2 linked regions of the Homo sapiens genome follow. The protein of the gene in region 2 interacts with the protein of the main gene of each other region in a biochemical or structural test. Each region holds a gene or a part of one and is shown on either strand. Other genes may lie near its edges.

Evidence for each region. Proteins that work in one complex are often made in the same cells at the same time.
Region 1: the proteins of RAD51 (region 2) and SPIDR form a complex in vitro, tested with the Homo sapiens proteins (one study listed by BioGRID and IntAct).

What each region holds. Positions count from the first base shown.
Region 1 is NC_000008.11:47,592,785-47,596,437, reverse strand, and holds part of SPIDR (DNA repair-scaffolding protein), read right to left. Parts: intron 628-3,653; coding exon 432-627; intron 1-431. UniProt on the Homo sapiens protein: Plays a role in DNA double-strand break (DBS) repair via homologous recombination (HR).
Region 2 is NC_000015.10:40,705,065-40,708,717, reverse strand, and holds part of RAD51 (DNA repair protein RAD51 homolog 1), read right to left. Parts: intron 2,542-3,653; coding exon 2,424-2,541; intron 1-2,423.

The sequences.
Region 1 (3,653 bases), on a different chromosome or scaffold from region 2:
ACTTGCCACCATGCAGGTTTGTAGCCTAGAAGCAATCAGCCATACCATATAGCCTAGGTGTGTAGTAGGCTGGACCATCTAGGTTTGTGTAAGTGCACGCTATGATGGTCACACAATGACAAAATCACCTAATGACAAATTTCTCAGACCATATCCCTGTTAAGTGATGCATGACTCTATTTTAATAAATTAGAATAAAGATTAAAGACACATAATTAGAAAGATGAAATACTGTAACAAGAGCACCACTAAATGCTGAACTGAACTATAATATATTCAGGCGTAACAGTAAGTTCATGCAGCATACATCCTTGTGGTGGGGTTTTTGGAGGGAGACAAAAGGCTAACATCTTCACTTACACTGAAGCCCTTCCAAATCCAGTCACTAACATTATTACAAGCATAAAACCTTTAGGCCAATAGGAGTTTACCTGGATTTCAGGTGAATTATTTGTTAGACCCTTAATTACAAACATCTGGGCCAAAGAGATGCTTCTTCTTGGAAGGGGTATGTCCGGACAGTACACTTCACAAGTTTTTTCTGAATCTTCTTTGGCAACAACTTTCTCACAAAAGTAAGTATTCAGAATAACAGGGCAACTTCCACTTGGAATAATCAGTTTTTGCCTGGAAAAGAGAAAGACATGCAACAGTTTCTTTGCAATATTGGGGTCCCCTCATATTCTTGCTAAATCAGGAATGCAAAGAGCAATGACTCGCCTGCTATGGACAGCTAAAGCCAAGCCCACCCACAGAGGCACAGCTGTCCTTCATGCTCCAGCATGGCCACCAGTAGTCTGACTTCACTGTTCTAGTGAAAGCCCTGTGTCAGGAAGGGATGGAAGAAGGCTAAGTCCCTGGGCTTGGGCTCCCTTGTGCCCTCCCAGTATGGCCTCAAGACCCCTCAGGGGGAAATACGGAGGATAAACAAAAACTGTCACAGCCTCAAAAAAGTGCCCAAACAATGAAATAAAATGTACAAATAAAACCTTCAGAAATTTTGATAGCTCTTTCAAAGAACATACCATTAAATGCCAAAGGAGCATCTACCTTTGCTATCAAACTGACTATAGTTGCTGAATACCTCACATTTAAGTATTAATAGAAAAGGAGTCAGGAAATAGAGCAGACAAAATTCTCCTGGTTCTTCTCAGTCCTTGGACAAGAGAAAACACTTTAATGCCTATTCCTTAAAACATGGCGCTGCTTAATATTAAAAATTTGGGACTTCTGATTCTGGGAGGACGGAGTATCACACTTTCCCCTATTCCTCTAATTAAGTACAACTAAAATGCCTGATATTATATGTAAAGTAAACATAAGAAGACACCGAGAGGTGGAGAGAAGAGACCAACAGGCTAAAACCTAGAGACCTCAGGACTTCAGGAATGAGGCAGTGGCAAGTTCCTGGGTTTTCTTTTTCTTTTCTTTTTCTTTTTTTGAGACATGGTCTCGGCTCTGTCGCCCAGGCTGGAGTGCAGTGGCATGGTCTCAGCTCACTGAAACCTCTGCCTCCTGGATTCAAATAATTCTCGTGCCTCAGCCTCCTGAGTAGCTGGAATAACAGGCATGAATCACCATGCCCAGTATTTTTTTTTAGTTTTTTAGTAGAGAGAAGGTTTTGCCATGTTGGCCAGATTGGTCTCAAACTCCTGACTTCAAGTGATCCACCCACCTTGGCCTCCCGAAGTGCTAGGATTACAGATGTGAGCCACTGTGCCCGGCCCTGGGTTTTCTTTTTGCCTCTTATATCTCAGGTTTTGAGCTGAAGGAGCCAGCAACCCGGAAACAGTAACATGTGCTGACAAAAAGCTCTACCAAAGCCTGCTCTCTTTAACCAAGGACCAAGGAAGGGGCAGCCTAGAAAGGCAGAAAACTCTTAGATGGTAACTGCTCTACTCTAGGTAAACATCATGAAAAACCTATGACTTGTCCCTATGCATGCTAGCACAGGCCAAGTGAAGACCTGGACTTCCCCCCTCATTGGGCTGTAATGAGAGCACCCCAGTATCCCAGCTGGGATACCAGAGAAGGTGGGCCAAGGAGCTTTCTTTTCCTTTTTCTTTTTTTTGAGATGGAGTCTTACTCTGTCGCCCAGCTGGGGGCACGATCTCAGCTCACTGCAACCTCTGCCTCCCAAGTTCAAGTGATTCTCCCACCTCAGCCTCCCAAATAGCTGGGACTACAGGCGCCCACCATCATGTCCAGCTAATTCTTTTTTTTTTTTTTTTTTTTTTTTTTGTAGAGACTGGGTTTCATCATGGTGACCAGGCTGGTCTCAAACTCCTGACCTCAGGTGATTTGCCCGCCTCGGCCTCCCAAAGTGCTGGGATTACAGGCGTGAGCCACCGTGCCTGGAGGACTTTGATCTCCCACAGGCCTGCAACGAGTACTCCCCTCATTGTGACAATGGAGAGACTACCTGGGGGCCTGGACTTCACCTCCTCCTGACAGTAGTAACCAAGCAACACTCCCTGCCCCTCTGGGGTGGTGCCAGAGGAAGTGTGGCAGAGAATCAGGATTTTCACCGCTGCTCAGTGGTGCTGAGGCCACCCTTCCCTCCTACCCCTCAGCAGAAGGCATGTGAGGAACAGCAACAAGGCTTCCCTGGCCCTCCCAGCCAGGGTGGTGTCAGCAGAGGCTTAGCAGGGAGCTGGAACTCATACCCCTGCCCAGCAGGAACAAGGAGTCTCTCCCTCTCTCAACTGTCAACTGAGGAACCTGGACTTCCCTCTCCACGTGGCAGTAACAACCCACTCCACTCCTCACTTTCTCCTACCAGAGCAGTGTCAGATGAAGCTACCTAAAAGAGGTTTCAATAAGATCCAGAGTCTCAAAACATAATACTCCAAATGTCCATGTTTCTATCAAAAATCACTTGTTATACTAAGAACCATGAAAAATCTCAACTTGAATGAATAAAGACAGTTAATAGATGTCAATACTGAGATAACATAAAGGTTAGAATTATCTGGCAAAGATTCTAAAGCAGCCATTTAAAAAAGCTTTAATAAGCAACCTTGACGCACTTGAGACAAATGAAAAAAAATAGTCTCAGCAAATAAACAGAATAAATATTTCTTAAAAATGGAAGTTTCAGAACTAAAAAAATAGTGAAAATAAAAGAATAGGTTCAACAGCAGAAAGGAGGAGAAAGAGAAAAGAATCAATAAAGTCGAAGATAAAAATAATAAAAATTACCCAATATAAATAATAAAGGGAAAACAGACTTAAAAAAAAAGTAAAAAACCTGGCTGGGCATGGTGGCTCATGCCTGTAATCCCAGTGTTTTGGGAGGCCGAGGCGGGCGATCACCTGAGGTCAGGAGTTCGAGACCAGCCTGACCAACATGAAGAAACCCTATCTCTACTAAAAAATACATAATTAGCTGGGCGTGGTGGGGCATGGCTGTAATCCCAGCTACTCGGGAGGCTGAGGCAGGAGAATCGCTTGAACCTGGGAGGTGGAGGTTGTGGTGAGCCAAGATCGCACCATTGCACTCCAACCCGGGCAACAAAAGCAAAACTCCTCTTCAAAAAACAAACAAAAAACCCCCAACAGAACCAAGGACCTGTGGGAAGAAAGAAATAGAAATGGAAGGCTATAGATAAAATAATACAGGTACATACAAGAGGCTTTCCTACTCCTCTTGA
Region 2 (3,653 bases):
CCAGCTACTCAGGAGCTAAGGTGAGAGGATCACTTGAGCCTGGGAGGCAGAAGTTGCAGTGAGCCAAAATCGTGCCAGTGCACTCTAGCCTGGGTGACACAGTGAGACCCTGTTTCAAAACAAACAAACAAACAAACAAATAAACCAAAAGTATTTTGAAATAATTAGATTTATAGATAGCTGCAAATAAGGCCAGGTGCGGTGGCTCACACCTGTAATCCCAGCACTTTAGGGGGCCGAGGCGGGCTGATCACCTGAGGTCAGGAGCTCGAGACCAGCCTGGCCAACATGGTGAAACCTCATGTCTACTAAAAATACAAAACTTAGCTGGAACTGGTGATGGGCACCTGTAATCCCAGCTACTAGCAGGCTGAAGCAGGAGAATCACTTGAACCTGGGAGGCGGAGGCTGCAGCAAGCCGAGATCACGCCACTGCACTCCAGCCTGGGTGACAAAGTGAGACTCCTCAAAAAAAAAAAAAAAAAAGCTGGGCACAATATGGTGAAACCCTGTCTCTACTAAAAATACAAAAATTAGCTGGGCATGGTGGTGCATGCCTGTAGTCCCAGCTACTCGGGAGGCGGAGGCAGAAGAATAGCTTGAACCTGGGGGCGGAAGTGGCAGTGAGCCAAGATCATGCCACTGCACTCCAGCCGGGGTGACATAGCAAGACCCCATCTCAAAAAAAAAAAAAAAAAAAAAAGCTGGGCACAGTGGCTCATGCCTGTAATCCCAGCACTTTGGGAGGCCGAGGTGGATGGATCAGGAGGTCAGGACTTTGAGACCAGCCTGGCCAAGACGGTGAAATCCCGTCTCTACTAAAAATACAAAAATTAGCCAGGCACGGTGGCGGGTGCCTGTCATTGCAGCTACTCAGGAGACTGAGGCAGGAGAACTGCTCAAACCTGGGAGTCAGTGGTTGCAATGAGCCGAGATTGTGCCACTGCATTCTAGCCTGGGCAACAGAGCAAGACTCTGTCTTTAAAAAACAAACAAACAAACCAACAACAACAAAAAAAAACATACGAAATTTCTATGCACCTAGCCTTCTGCAGTGTTAACCTCTTGCATAATGATAGTATAGCACTGATATTAGAAAACTGACATTGGGGGCCAGGCATGATGGCTCACGCCTGTAAGCCCAGCACTTTGGGAGGCTGAGGCGGGTAGATCATCTGAGGTCAGGAGTTCGAGACCAACCTAGCCAACGTGGTGAAACCTCATCTCTACTAAAAATACAAAAATTAGCTGGGCATGGTGGCACTTGCCTGTAGTCCCAGCTACTTGGGAGGCTGAGGCAGGAGAATCACTTGAACCCAGGAGGCGGAGGTTGCAGTGAGCTGAGATTATGCCACTGCACTCCAGCCTGGGTAACAGAGTGAGACTCTGTCTCAAAAAAAAGGGAAAGAAAACTGACATTGGGCCAGGCAAGGTGGCTCAAGCCTATAATCCCAGCACTTTGGGAGGCTGAGGCAGGAGGATGGCTTGAGCTCAGGATTTTGAGACCAGCCTGGGCAACATAATGAGTGATGCCCCGACTCAAAAAAAAAAAAAAAAAAAAAAAAAATTAGCCAGGTGGTAAATGATCATAGTCCTAGCTTGGGGAGACTGAGGCTAGAAGATCACTTGAGCCCAGGAAGCAGAGGTTGCAGTGAGCTGAGACCATGCCACTGCACTCCAGCCTGGGTGACAGAGTGAGACCCTGTCTCGAAAAATAAATAATAAGGTCAAAAGCTTTATAGTTTTCCCTGAAGTCCTGAAGATTAGTGTGTACACAATGAGTAGTATTCAAACATGGAATGTTTTAACCAGTCATCAGGTTTTCAACCCTGTGGTAGAGTAGGTTATAATTACAGTTACCTCCTTAAGCAAAAGGAGCTTACTCTCTTAACACAATATTAAATGGAGACTAAATTATTTAATTTGCAGATAAGTTTAGTATTTTATAAATAAGGTCCTACCTTGCAGCAGTCTTACCTCTTCAATGTGGATACTTCCTTTATCTCTCTTTGTTTTTGAGACAGAGTTTTGCTCGTCACCCAGGCTGGAGTGCAGTGGCACAATCTTGGCTCACAGCAACCTCCGTCTTCCGGGTTCAAGTGATTCTCCTGCCTCTGCCTCCCGAGTAGGCATGTGCACCTACAGGGATTACAGGCATGTGCCACCATGCCCAACTAATTTTGTATTTTTAATAGGTTTCTCCATGTTGGCTGGGCTGGTCTCGAACTCCCAGCCTCAGGTGATCTGCCCACCTCAGCCTCCCAAAGTGCTGAGATTACAGGCATAAGCCACTGCACCTGGCCTTCCTCTATCTCTTTATCATTATCTAACAAGGAAATGCTACACAAATATTTCAGTTTTGTTTTATAACCTGGAAGCTTTCCTAACTAGAGTTCACAACACAGGATAAAGGATTACTACACCTTGAAGTAGTTTGTCAAGCTCTTTGGAGCCAGTAGTAATCTGTATGATCTCTGACCGCCTTTGGTGGAATTCAGTTGCAGTGGTGAAACCCATTGGAACTAATTTAGCTGCCTCAGCCTGGGAAAAATAAGAAATATTAAATCAACAAAATAATATTCCTTACCACAGTGATCTTGATGGCAAAAAAATATATATAAAGAAAAAAGAAATATTAGTAAAACAAGGTGTGCAATGGGAAGAGAAAATATCAAATAAAATTACCAGGATGATTTCTCTTTAGAAAGTCATAAAAAAGGATAATCTAATTCAGAGATTCCATGAAGATCAATTTTTAAATTGCCAATTCAAGTTAATATATTAATATAGTTTTAAAAACTATTATAGATCCGGCCGGGTGCGATGGCTCACGCCTGTAATCCCAGCACTTTGGAAGGCCAAGGCAGGCGGATCACAACGTCAGGAGATCGAGACCATCCTGGCTAACATGGTGAAACCCCATCTCTACTAAAAAAATACAAAAAATTAGTCGGGCGTGGTGGCGGGTGCCTGAAGTCCCAGCTACTTGGTAGGCTGAGGCAGGAGAAAGGCGTGAACCCGGGAGGCGGAGCTTGCAGTGAGCCGAGATCGCGCCACTGTACTCCAGCCTGGGGGACAGAGCGAGACTCTGTCTCAAAAAACAAAACAAAACAAAACAAAAAACTATTAGAGATCCGTACATATGTGTTTTGCCCAATTTATGACAAAAATGACAATACAGTACACCTTCATTTCCTGCTCCATCAACCGCAGACTGTATCCCTTAACTTCCTACTTTGTAAAAATGAGGACATTTGCCCTTCAATCTTTTCTCTCTCCATGGCTACTTCCCCACCTCTATCAGCTGTACCTTTTCTTTCATATTGTCTGGCTGAGAACATTCACATTCTATTTTGTAATTACAGATAAGTGTTCTGTAATAGCACTATGGGTTGATTCTAAAATTGAAAAGTAAGTGCATTCACAAATATGCAAAAATAAAGCAACACACTCCTAAATAAGCAACAAGTCAAAGAAGAAATGACAAGGGAAATCAGAAAATGTTTTTGCAATGAATGAAAACGAAGATATACCAAAACGTATGGGCTCCAAGAAAAGCAGTGCTTAGAGAGAAATTCATAGCTATAAACAGCTATATTAGAAAAGAAGGCTGGGTGTGGTGAATCACACCTGTAATCCCAGCACTTTGGGAG